2 linked regions of the Homo sapiens genome follow. The protein of the gene in region 1 interacts with the protein of each later gene in a biochemical or structural test. Each region holds a gene or a part of one and is shown on either strand. Other genes may lie near its edges.

Region 1 (7,163 bases):
TAATGGCGAGATATACTGATGTTTGCCAAACTGGCCTGCTATTTCGAAAAGCTCAGGAGCTCACTGTATAAGTTGGTAGTTTTACCCTACTCCCTCTGGCTCCAGGTATCTTTGGACCCTCGGGTATGCAAACCATCCCTGTTTATCATGTCTCTCTGCAGTTATTTATGCTTTTTCCCCTAACCTTTTGAATTAGAACTCAGAAAGAAGTGGCCCCAAGTAGGAGGAGAGCAAAAACTCCTATCACCTTTTCCCTGACCCCAAACCCTCCTCCACATTGTAAGACAAATGACTGTTTTGGCTGGCTTTCCAAAGTGTGGACTCTTTCCCCACTCTTTTCCTTCCCTCAATAACTTATGCACATGTATTCCAAAGATTGGCTTTCTCCACTTTCCACCTGCCTAGCTAATTGTCAACTCTTATTTCTAATAATAAAGTCTCAAATTTTTAATTTTCTGACACTGTGAATGTCCCCAGGCTGTATCTGTAAAAACCTTGGTCAATGACCCACTGAGAACTGGTGACTAGTCATGACCTGATACTTAGGAGACAATCTAATGCATGAGTCAGCTGAATTTCAGGTTATGCTGTAGACAGGGCCTCCACATTTACATTAATCAAAATGAAGAAATGCCAAGAAGAGCCTTGCAGGTTTCAAAGTTGAAGCTATAGCCTTTAGGTACACCTCTCAACATTATCAAGAGTTTTGGAATCACTGCCATCTTTGGGGGAAGAAGAAAATTCCAATTAAGCTGTTACCAAGGAAACTTTAGAACTATCACCTAACACTTAAGTGTTTATAAGACATTATGTTAAGTTTCTGAAAATTCCACATGCATAATTTTGACGAATAAAGTCCAATGAAAATCTCTATGTTGCCACAGGAACAACACAAAACAAACTTACTTGGGTTTGTTTTCTTAGTTGTATCCAAAACACAGAAAATAGCACATGATAGATTTAAAAACATAGGTGTTTTAGTCTATGTGTGGATTGAGAGAAAGCTCTCATTCAAAAGACATTAAAATTGATAGGCTCAAACTGAAGGTTGCACAATACAATTTTAAAAGCACTACAATTTGTAAGAATAAAATGATGACCCCAAGTAATCAGAAAAGTGACAAATTACAATTTTTCAAAGGGATGGATACACGAACAGGCAAATATAAAATATCCAGTTGATAGAGGTTAAGAATAATAATGTGAAGTAATGAAAATAAACTATCTTTAAAATACCCAGGGTTTTCTTGGTGGGTGGTGCTTAGGATACTAGATATAATTTAACTAAAAGAAAGACGAATTTGTATTTCTAGTTATTTTCTGCTTAACAATGGTCATAGATAGCCAAGAAACAATTCTAGAAAATCATTTGGGATTAAAAACTGGCTCTGGAAAATCCAGGCATGTGGGTATTAAAGATTTGTAAGTTTAAAGTAAAATTCTGGGATCTTTTTGGAACATATTTGAAGTCACCAATGCCATACTAACTTGTGCCAAACTAGATGCCAAAATTGTTAGTCTGAAACATTCCTGGAGGTCACAGGCATTTTAATATTACATAAAGAAGACCAAAACTTAACACTGAAGTCCAGGTGGAGGTCAGGGCCAGAGTGCCATTCACTGTTTCTCATTATAAAGTCAACAGCTCACATCCTTTAGTCCTGACAGATAACAGGGACACTTACCATGGAGAGCACACACACGAAAGATAAGTTTCCTTTCTAGTGCCTTTAGATGATCGAAGTTCTCAACATGAAAAACTAGGCTGCTATCCCCACTGATCTCTTCTAGCTGAGATCTATTGGCATTGTATACTCCTACAGAGAAGATGGTCACATCTTTGCCCCGAAGAATTCTAGCAGGATCTCTCACATCATCCTGCGCTACTCCATCTGTGATGAGGATGAGAAATTTTTTGGCCCCCAAACGGGCCCCCTTGGAGTGGGTGAAGTATTGACCTACAAAATTTAGTGCCTTTCCAGTTAAAGTGCCTTCATTGATGAGAGACATTCTATCTATTGCATCAGAAATTTCTTGCTGTGTAAAATATCTATTAAGCTGGAACTCTTCCTTAGTTTTATCACTGAACTGAACAACACCAATCTGGGTTTTGTCTGCACCAATTTGAATTTTAGTTAACAGGTTTTTCATGAAGATTTTCATTTTCCTAAAATTTTCATTTCCTATACTCCAAGAACTGTCCACCAGAAACATGATGTCGGCCTTCATGTCTTCACATCCTGCATGTTATAAAAAAAAAGACCAGAAATAACCAGGTTGGAAAGGTTCTCATGAAGTAACATTAAGGCAGAAACAAATGCATTAATGAGAAAACATTGAAAATTAACTCAGGCAACTGTTGTTATGTTTGAAAATTGTATTTGCTTCTTTAGTAGAAGCTGGTTGACTAGAACCTTGAATCAGAAATGCAGCTTCCAAAATGTGTATTTATTCATGCATGCATGCATGCATGCATAACTCATTTATTCATATTTCTTTCATTCATTCAATCATAATTTTGAGTTGTATAAAATGCCAGGCATCCAGCCATGTGTTAAAGATGCAGTAGTGATACAAAAAAGGAACCAGAGCCAAAGCAATCAATTCCTTGCACTCATAGTACTAACACTCCAGGGTTTTATGTATATTCTGGAGAAACACAATTTCAAATAATTTTTAAATAGCATTATTTTCTGGGATAATTCTAAGTGATTTCATAAACACTATAAATCAATATTAGAAATTGGAGAAAAAGTTTTTACTAGAGATAAGTGCTTCAGTAAGCATATACTCATTCAACATGGACTGTTCCTTTATACATAATATTTGTAGACAGCCTACTGATTGGAAATGAACATACAGACATACGTATATATATATATACATATATATACACACATATGTATGTTCATTGTTCTATGTATAATATAGACATATGTACACATATAAAACCAATTTCTATAATCTATTAAAAACAATATTATTAATTCATGATACATATGTTGTGTATATATATAATATGCAAATATATTGTCTTTAGCATGTATCTTTTTAGTCTTAATCCCTTTTGTCTATCTGTAATCTCTGCCATCCTCTTACAGTTTCTCCCTCAACATTCTGAAGTCTATCCCATACTTCTTGAAAATAAACATAGCATCAGCCATATATTAAAAAAATGAAAAGATGTTAACTATTACTTAATAAACGTGTAAGGTCACATTCTGATCCACCAGGAGGACTACACCACCATTTTAAGATTCAAGCTGCCATGGAACCATCTTGAAAGTCATGAGAGGAGAAATTGCTGAAGATGTTTGTGGCCTTGACAGAGTGGCCTTGACCACTGTAGTGAAGTGTGAAAGATTCTCTTCCATGTAACACATATAAAAGAAATAGGCTTCTACATACAGTTTAGTATTCACAGGATCTACTTCCTGGTATCTATTTGTGACAGAAACTACTTAATGTCCCTGAATATCTATCTTTCCATTCTTCTATGTTAATAAAATTTTAGATAGGCAGATGATTGCCCATCTAAAGATTGTATTTCCCAGCCTTCCTTGAAGCTAGCTGTGGCCTTGTGTCTAAGTTTTAACCAAAAGGTATGAGAAAAAAGTGATCTGGCCACTTCTGGGTCTTACCATTAAAACAGTTGAGTGTGGTAGGCTCCCTTGGTCCTTTCTCCCTTTCCATGGATGGAAGGTGATAAGAACTGGATCTTCAGTTTTGACCTAAAGATGGAAGCTATGTGTTGAGGATGGAACAGCCTCTCTACTAGACCTGGACTATTCACCCTAAACTATTATGTAAGAGAAAAATGATATTCTGTACTGTGTAGTCTGGGGTCTTTTTGCTATTGCAGCTTAACCTGTACCCTACTAATACACTGTGCCTCACTCCATCTGCATCTGCTCTGAGACTCCTTAGTTTTTTCTAGCTCCACAAGCTTTGGCTCCTTTGTTTTCCTGCTTCTCTGTTAGCCATTTTATGACTCATTTCCTTGTCCACAACTTATCTCCTCCTCCAGGCATGCCAGTGCTCAGGCTGACTACTTCAACTGCAACTACCTGAAGTGCAAGGGATGTACTGTACCTCCCTAGATTCGTCCAGGACCTTCTCCCTTGAAAGGATCTGAGATACAACCTACTTTATGCTTCCTGGAATCCTTTTACTTTTCTTAGCATCGACTCCAGGAAACATTGGGGAATCTTTTATTCTTGCACTCTTTCTAAGACACCCTAAAGACCCAACTCTGTTACTGTCCATAACAGGGAGAAAAATGAACAAAATTGTTACTTAGGATTTTGTTGTTAATGCTATTTATTTGCTTACTTATTTTTTATTTTTGTTTTTCAGTGGCTTAGAGAAAATTCAAACACGTTTTCAGTTTAGTCAAATAAGTGAGAATTCTCTTCCTTTCCTCATCGGTGAACACCTTAGCCACCTTCTGCAACAGCTAACTTTTTTGTAGCGCTTACTATGTTCCAGGCACTCCTCTAACTGCTCCACGTGTGTTATCACCATTAAGCTTCACAATAAGCCTACAAACAAGGAAACCAAGGCAAGTAGACACTAACTTATTCAAGGTCGTGGCTAATCAGTGGTAAAGCTAGGGTATGAACCTTGACTCTGACTCTAGCATCTTTCCTCTTTACCAGTAAACTAATGTGCTTCTCAGCAGGCAATATTTTCATGTGCTAATACTGGCAATCAACACATACCATCTTGAACTAGTAAGTGGTGTAAGTGGCCATTATTAATAATAGAAATAAAAAAACAACCAGATATAGAAATTTGCAAATTGTTTCTCCTAACTTTTGGTACTTAATCTCTAATTAGAACAAAAATGCAAGTATGTGTTTTTGTTGTAAATAAAAATGAACAATTATTACATATATACTTGATATGCATTTAATATAAAAATAATGGTTGGCATTTATGGTGCTCAACTTATAAGGATTCTCTGATGTAGGTATTATCCTCATTTTATAAATGACAATGTTCCAGGCTCAAGTGGAAGTATGTGAGTCAAACCCTAAGCTATCTAGAGCCAAAGTCCATTTTCCTTCCACTGTACCCACCTGTGCACACACAAACACTGTACTTCCCCCGTACTTATTTGTGTATGCACATACATACACACACACACACCTCCCATGCAGAATAGAATCTCTCTCACTCCACAGCAGTGGGCTTTGTCAAGGCCCCAACATTCTTAGCAACCTTCCCACTTATGACTTCCAAGATGGCCTTGGGGCAACTGTTTATAGACAGATTCTCCAGTCTTGGCATTTGGTTTAAAAGTGAGGGGCTGAATCCCTCCATGGTAATAAAGGAAGCTAGCAAAATGTTATCCGGACAACTGGTCACATCAGGCCTTGTCTCAGCCTGGCCATTAATCTGCCTAAAGCAATTGATGAAATGTGGAGAATAAAGCCTTTTTTGTGTTGCTTACCTTTTTCAGCGCAGATTTCACGAACGACTTCATTTTTTATGCTTTTCAAAGCATCAAAGTTCTGCCCAAAGCTAACCCTTTCTTCTTTCCCAGCAATTTCTTGCAGTTCTATTTTATTAGCTGCCCCAATGCCAACTGCATGAACAGTGATTTGCTCAGCCCTTAGTCTCTTAGCAGGTTCCACGACTCTGTCTGTGGACATCCCATCAGTCAACACAATGAGGTAACAGGGAACCTTGCTCATTCTATCCTTCATTCCATTTTTTATTATTTGCAGTATGTAATCCAGAGCTTTCCCAGTATAAGTTCCACCAGTTAGTTGCTTAATGTTAAAAATAGCCTTTCTTAAGTCAATATCATTAGAATAGTCAGTGATATAAAATTCCACTTCTGTGTCATCTGAATACTGCACAACTCCAACTCGGACTTTGTCTGGGCCAATGCTAAACATTTCTGTCACTTCCAACATAAATCTCTTGATTTGCTCAAACTGTTTCTCCTGGATGCTGCTTGAGCCATCAATGAGGAAGTGGATATCAGCCTCTTTTGTATCCACACAGCCTGAAAAAGAAGTGCATTCTCTGTAAATTAGAGAACCTAGAGAGAACTTTGCAAGAGGGTTTGTGAAGGAACATGAGGCTGAGGCATTTCTAAAGAATGAAGACTTCGTTTTTGCGTAGAGCCTGCACACTTCATTAAGCACAGTCATGCCCATTTTCTCCTTTGAAATTTACAACACCTTGTGAGAAAATTGAAACAGGGCAAAATGTAGTGGTTTGTCTAAGGTCATATAACCAGTAAATTAAAGAGTAAAGACCAAATTCCAGAGACTCCAGGCTCCAAGTTAAATAGTTTTTCTAGCATTGACACCTGCCTTCTTAGACAGTTTATGTCCTATCATTTCTTGAAAAAAGGCATGGGATTGACGATCTTCTATTCTTACTTCACCAATAATCTCTTCTTCCCAGAGCAACTAGAATAAGATATTTAAATATAAACTTAGATCATATTATCCTACCTCTTAAATGATCTATCGTTGCATTTGGAACTTAAAAACTAAAACTTGGCCTTATCTTGTCTCCTGCTTTTCTCTCTGACTCTATTTCCAGCAATTCTTCGTCTCCCTCACTGTGTTCCAACCACATTAGGCTTCATTCTGTCTTTAGAACGTGTCCCTGGGTCTTTGCATGTGCCCTCCTCTCTTCTTGAAATATTCTTTGCCCCAAATATCCACATGGCTGCTTCCTTCTCATCATGGATGTCATCAAGTCATCTCTTAAAAAAGGTCTTCTCTTCTCCTTATCTAAAGCACACCTGTCATTGTCTATCTTCTTACAGTGTTTATTTTCTTTATGTTACTTTCTGAAGTTACCTTCTTCATTTGTTCATGAGCATGGCCTGTTTCTTACCACAGAATGTAATCCATGAGGACAAAGATTTTGTTTATTTTTCTGCTTCTGCCCAGTAGGCCTGGCACATCATAGGAGTTCAGTTTGTTTTTTTTAATAAAAGACTTCTCAATGTTCCTTCCTTTGTTAAGCTGAATCTATGAAAAACTATTTTTGCTTTCTTAGTAGTCTATTTACTACTTTATGTAGATATTCACAGAAACTGGGTAAGAGAAAGAACATATTTTCAAAATTTTGGGTTATGTGTGTCATTATCTGGTTTTCTTGACAGCTCTTAGGTAATTTATAGCTACTGACAC
Region 2 (7,000 bases), on another chromosome or scaffold:
AGGATTCCTCTGACAGCTAGGTGTACAGCAGAGGTGTATTTTGCTCAAGCGAGGTGAGACAGAAAGCATGGGCACCACAGCAGCTCTCTGGCCACACCGGGATGTGGCACAGCTGCCTTCTGGAGAGTGCATCCCAGGCGCTTGACCACAGCCTTCCCAGAGCTGCCGAACTCAGCTCCGAACAGTTCATATAATACCATGCACTTCTACTGATCTTATTAATTTTTTTAGCTGGAATAACAAGACAGTGTGTGATGGTAATTATTCTACATTGTGAAAGAATTAAGGAAATTTTGTCCAGTATGTTTTCCTAGTGCGCATAAGTTATTTATAAGGGCTTTATGTTTATAGCAACAAAATACCCCACCTCTTGTTAAAGACATTTCTATAGTCTATTATTTAAATAAACACATGTGTTTAGTCAGATGTATTCAATTTCAGCTCTTCTTCTTAAAAAGAAAAAAACACCAAACCAGTCTTAAGTATTTAGAATATTTAGAATACAACCACTTCATTAGGAATTATTTCAGGAACAGTATAAACACTAATATTAATGTTTAAAAATATCTTCATATAATACTTACCTAAAGTTTGGCATAATCTTCCAAACAACATAAAATAAGGACTCTGGGCTAAATGCAGTCTGGCTGCCTTGCCATAAAGCACAGAGTGTCTTTCTAAACTCTTCTACCAAAGACCTGCAAAAGAGGAAAGGACAGTGCCCTCAGATTAGTGAGAGGCTACAATTTCAACACAGCGTCCACCCATCTAAAATGCCTAATATATAGGAAATGAACACTTAAAAAGGATTTGGTCTTTTCTGAAGAAAGTCTGAAAGATACATAAGAGCATCTCAAAAACCCATAAAAGTAGCAGTAATTCTGACAAAGCTAATTTGTAACCATATGGTTAACTCTGAGTGTGCCCATGCACCGCCATGTTTGTACACTTTGAGTTAAAACACGCAAGCAAACCATACAGCACTGGGTGAGTTATAGGCCAAATGACTTAAGAATGTACATTTTCAAAATGCAAAACAAGCATTCGGCTTTCTTTCTCCCCCTCCTGCCTTGTCCTTCTTGCCACTCACTAGCACCCCCAGACTCCAGCCTGTGTCACTAACCTTCACCACTCAGCTCTCCACCAGTGACTCTCAACTCCAAAAGTCAGATTTTCTCATGACTATTTTTATTTAAACTTCTCCAGTTTCCAGCAGGAATTTTCTGCGGGAGGTCCTCTTGTCACTTTCACCTCTATGTGCACTGACCGGCTCCAGCATCTACTGCTCTCTGTACACCTCTCCTATCACCCAATATCCACACTCTTCTCGCATATGAATAGAACGCTCATTTTTTTCCTGGGCATATAAACTCTCCCAATAAAAAACTGAGTGTGTCCAAATTCTGGGAAATGTCTTAAAAAGAAAGAGTAGTCCTATAATAATCCTTTCCTTCTTCCTGCTAGGAATGAGGACGGAGTTGGGGAGCCCCAGCACCATGGGGGACTATGTGGATGGATAGGGCCTCTGGAGGTTGGTGGAAAAGAAAGCCAGGAGGAGCCCGATGGCTTTGTCAAACCACCCTAGACAGACAGCCTCTGACTTTTATGTGAGGAAACAAACCATGGATGTTTAAGTCACTTAATTTTGGTTTTCTACACCTGTGGCTAAACTGATCCAACTCAACTTCAACTTCCATAGCTGTCAACATAAGCACCATATTTTCGGATACTTGATTGGTATCTCAGAGAATCTCAATATCTTCTTTCTCAACCCTCACAATCACATAGGTCCCTGGAATACAAATCATATTTTTGACTTCCTAGTACTTGAACCCTCTTCCTATGTTGGAGAATCCCTACTTTTAAGAGTTTGCCTCCCACTTCCGAAGCTAAACAGCCAGACACTCGCCTTCTCAGGCTCCCTTGCAGTCAGAGCACAGGTACACAGCCTGGGCTTTGCCCATCCGAAGCAGGAGTTAGTGACACAAAGAAGAAGGGATGGCACCAAATCCTCTCTGGTAGCAGGGGGGGCAAAGAGCACCATCCGGAGTGCAGGGCAGCAGCATGGCTGTGTCCGCCAGCACCCATCTCCAGCAGTGCTGGCAACAGGAACTCTGCTGCTGCGCTGGGCACCAGAGGCAGTGGTGGCCTTACAGGACAGTTCTGTGGGGTGACTGTGACTGCGGTGCTGCTGCCTCGGACTCCAGACCTGATTTTTCACTCACCCAGTATGATTAGCTCACCAATAGCCCTGCAGTAAATTCCTTTGCTGCCTAAATCAGCCAAAGGCAATTTCTACAGCCTGCAACTCAACCCTGCATGACATGAATGCATCAAGTACTACTAACTCTTCTCTTAACTCATACACATGTATTTTTTCTACTGTTTCACTGCTGTCCCCTCTGACCTGATTACTGTAGAGTGCAAAGCCTCCTTGAATGCAGGCACTTTCAACTCATCCTAGATGCTGCTCAACTCATCCTAGATGCTGCTGTGAGGGAAACTCCCTTCAAACACCACTTGTAGTGACGTCATTCCAGCCCTGCTCCACGCCTGGCTTTCCAGTTTCCCTGCACTGTGACTCTCGCCCTACTGCCCATTATTCTGACATGTTCAGTCCTACTCTCCCTCAGCCACCAAGGCAGGAAAGTGTCTGATCACCCCTTCAGAATGAGTGAGAATGGGAGTGTGTGGAAGTGGAGGAGGCAGACAGAGAAAACATTAAATATATAAGGAGTACGAGTCACAGTCCTTCTGAAAAAGAGCTGTAAAGTTATGAAAAATGTGCTCACTACAATTGTCATAATGAAAGATCTTCTGAACCACAAATAAGGGAGGTCTACACCAAATGAGGATACAGGATTGGTTCTTAATGAGCACTTGTCCGTTTTCTTCCCCCCCTCTCCGTATCAACCAAAAATTGACTTTATTCCCCCACAACTAATCTGTTGACTACAAATTAATTTCAGTATCCAAGACAGGTTTACCTAACACTGTCGGACAAATCAACTCACATGGACTAATGAGATTCATAGTCATCTACACCTAGAACTGCACTTCATATCTAGATGCCAATTCTAGAATGCCCAAATCTGCAGAGTCAATAAGTAGAATGCTAAATTTATCCCTCCTGTTACGGTAAATAAAGGAATCCCAACAATTTTTTTTTTTTTTTTTGAGATGGAGTCTCGCCCTGTCACCTAGGCTGGAGGGCAGTGGCGCGATCTCGGCTCACCGCAACCTCTGCCTCTTGGGTTCAAGCGATTCTCCTGCCTCAGCCTCCCGAGTAGCTGGGATTACAGGTACCCGCCACCATGCCCGGCTAATTTTTGTATATTTAGTAGAGATGGGGTTTCACCATGTTGACCAGGCTGGTCTTGACTGACCTCAGGTGATCCACCCGCCTCAGCATCCCAAAGTGCTGGGATAACAGGCGTGAGCCACCACACCCGGCCGGAATTCCAACAATTATTAAGATTGCTAACTAGATATTTAAACACAATTTTTAGAAGATTTTTTTTAAGGCATGTGCCTGTTAGCTCACTTAGTACAATGGAAACCACCAGTGAAAGTAATTTGTTTTGTAACTCAAAGCCAGAAAGGACATACTCTTATAACTCACACATTGTTATCCCCTTGGCTCCTGGTGTGGTATGTCCGCCTTCCTGCTGTTTTCCCATTCCTTAACTCCACGGCGGGCAGTTCTTTGAAATAACAGCAAAACTGCTCAATGTTACTATTTTAAAAGGAAGGGAAAAATATTTTAAAAAGAAAAGAATAGGACTGTAAAGAAAGTTGATGAAGCCTACATATACATTTTGAAACTGCCATTTTTCAATTGTCTCATTTAAACTGTACTCAGTGCAATCTCTTGCATTCAGATTCTTCATTATGATTTTTCCTTCTCTCTAAGAAAACAGTATAGACAGATGACTTTGTAAAAAAACAAAAACAAAAAACAAAGAGCTGAAAACAAAATCTCTTTTCAAAAAAATCCCCAATTCTCCCTCCAGCTATAGGTAGTCACCATTTCTTTCTTTTCGGTTGCTTGTTTCCAGTTATTCAATAATTTCCTCAAATAAAAACAAACCATGAAACCGACCATATTATTTTGATACACTATACAGAATCCTAAGGAGAATTCAGTAGTAATTATAATTTCCTCTTTGAGCAAGAAGAGATAAGCTAAGAGGCAGTGCCTTCCAGGAGAGATCAAATATGCCTTCTGCTTCTTATCAGCAATGTAACCTTGGGAAGATCATTTATTCTGGCCTTTGATGTCTCATTAAAATCTAAAAGTATGCAACTTTCAAAATAATTTATTCTACAAAACTTAAGTCAGCCTTGTTGACTATTTTATTTTTACTACTTGTCTCATATTTTGAAGACATCTCATCTTATGACCTTGATTAACCCATTTATGCCTAGTGTTCCATTATTGGAACGCTAAGCTTCTGGGAGTTATTTATATCTTACTGATCGAGGTCATCACCAACGTCTGATTTTTCATACAGAAAAATTGCAACCTCTGACATAAATGGGTTAAAACTTAACTAATGACTGAAATAAGCTCTCTGAACAAGGCTCTCTGTAACCCAGGGGTCTGCAAACTGTAGCCCACAGGCCAAATCTAGCCCTCCACCAGGCAGCTCTTAAAGCGAGTTTTAAATTTTTAAAGTGTTGTTTTATTTAATTAATTAATTAATTTATTTATTTTTGAGACAGGGTCTCGCTTTGTCACCCAGGCTGGAGTGTAGTGGCGCCATCTTGGCTCACTGCAACTTCCACCTCCTGGGTTCAAGCGATTCTCCTGCCTCAGCCTCCCAAGCAGCTGGGACTAGAGGCGCATGCCACCACGCCCAGCTAATTTTTGTATTTTTAGTAGAGATGGGGTTTCACTATGTTGGCCAGGCTGGTCTCAAACTCCTGACTTTAGGTGATCTGCCCGCCTCAGCCTCCCAAAGTGCTGGTGGGATTACAGGCCTGAGCCACTGCACCTGGCCCTAAAGTGTTGTTTTAATAAAGAGCGGGGGGGTGGGGGATATCTGAGAGAGACTGTAGCCTGAAATACTAAAATGTTTACTATCAGGCCTTTCACAGAAAAAGTTTGCTGACCTCAGTTCTAGCCTATTCAAAAAGCAACCGGAAATAACCGCAAACAACTATTCACTGCAGGACACTGCTCTAAGTACTTTAGACAAATTACATTATTCAATCTTCCCAACTACCCCATGAGGTAGGAACTACTGTCCCCAATTTTACTGATGAGGAAACAAAAGCACAGGAAATTAAGGTATCTTGCTCCAAACCATATGACTAGAGTTAGTGGCAGACGAGATAGGGAGCCAGAGCCCGTGCTCTTAACCTTTAATGTCAGACACTTAAGCTCTGACTGTAGCGTTACCTGAGTGACTGAAGGATGGCATTCATGAAACATGTGTTCCCCAAATTCCGAAGGCCTGTGGCACAAATGGCAGTGGTGCTTCCCTGTAAGTGGTGCAAGAAGAGGCCATCAGTAATGCCAAGGGAAGGCCAACTGTTTCAAACATCAAAGCTAAGGAAAGGCCTCTGAAATCTAGCACCAAGCCAATTTGGAATTGGTCCTTTTCTGTCCAATGAATATTTCAAACAAACTCTCTAGTCTCTGTATAAATGTCTGGATATTTTTAGAAGGCTGTTTCTGATCCTGGGATTGTTCTAAATAGAAGTATCTTATTGAAAGCTTATGAGGAAATCACCATTAATGAGTACCATGGAGTACACAATGCAAAAAACAGGAAATCCTTAAAATAACATTTAAGACTTAATGCCTTTTTAAGATTCTATAAAAACTAAGAGAAATGGAAAAAATATAAATATATACACCCCAAGTATTTTTGTCCCCAAACTTTTAACTCTAAGCCATACATAAACGACCAATACACGTTTTCCTAACAATGGGATATGAATCTTGAAAAGCTGCCTGAGGCCAGGCGCCTCAAGACAGGCCGCCAACATGGCGAAACTCCGTCTCTACTAAAAATACAAAAAGGCTGGGTGTGGTGGCTCATGCCTGTACTCCTAGCACTTTGGGAAGCTGAGGTGGGTGGATTGCCTGAGCTCAGGAGTTCGAGACCAGCCTGAGCAACACGGTGAAACTCCGTCTCTACTAAAACAGAAAAAGTTAGCCGGGCGTGGTGGCGTGTGCCTGTAATCCCAGCTACTTGGGAGGTTGAGGCAGGAGAATTGCTTGAACCCAGGAGGCTGAGGTTGCAATGGGCCAAGATTGTGCCACTGCACTCCAGCCTGGGTGACAGAGTGAGACTCCATCTCAAAAAAAAAAAACAAAAACAAAAACAAAATAAAAGTACAAAAATTAGCCAGGCGTGGTGGTGTACACCTGTTGTCCCACCCCCTTGGGAGGCTGTGGCAGGAGAATCACTTCAGCCTGGGAGGCAGAGGTTCCAGTGAGCCGAGACTGCGCCACTGTACTCCAGCCTGGGCTACGGAGTGGGACTCCATCTCAAAAAAAGGAAAAGCCGCCTGAAGCTAAAGACTTAGTCTTAAAAACAAAGGCTGGGTTTTCTGATGACGAAGGAGTGTGAGCAAGTATTAAGAGTGAACTGTTTTCTAGGGAAGAGGAGCACAGCAGTAACGCTGATGGGAAGAAGGTGCTGACAGATGGACTCACTGGGGTCACGGCAACAATCGACAGTACAGGTGGCAAACATTGTGTAAAATACTCCAAATCCAAGACACACATTTATAAAAGTCTGTAACAGGTAACATTACATGTTAGAGTTGTAACAAAACAGTGATTAAATCTCAACTAACTCTTATATTTGAATAAATTTTAATTACTTACATTTACTTTTAATAACTTGCTGTTTAGTGTTGAGTTTTCCAAAAGTTTTCTTTTCTTATGCCTGTCAGCTGTGAAAGCTGAGCTATTAAAACACAAACAGATAGTGAAAAAGTTATTAATATATGCATGCTACACCACAGGTGAAAGAATAAACTC

What was found. Proteins that work in one complex are often made in the same cells at the same time.
Region 2: the proteins of COL6A5 (region 1) and USP3 form a complex in vitro, tested with the Homo sapiens proteins (one study listed by BioGRID).

What each region holds. Positions count from the first base shown.
Region 1 is NC_000003.12:130,383,657-130,390,819, reverse strand, and holds part of COL6A5 (collagen alpha-5(VI) chain isoform 1 precursor), read right to left. Parts: intron 6,017-7,163; coding exon 5,456-6,016; intron 2,241-5,455; coding exon 1,686-2,240; intron 1-1,685. UniProt on the Homo sapiens protein: Collagen VI acts as a cell-binding protein.
Region 2 is NC_000015.10:63,556,593-63,563,592, reverse strand, and holds part of USP3 (ubiquitin carboxyl-terminal hydrolase 3), read right to left. Parts: intron 6,927-7,000; coding exon 6,845-6,926; intron 5,488-6,844; coding exon 5,405-5,487; intron 3,737-5,404; coding exon 3,623-3,736; intron 699-3,622; coding exon 585-698; intron 1-584. UniProt on the Homo sapiens protein: Deubiquitinase that plays a role in several cellular processes including transcriptional regulation, cell cycle progression or innate immunity.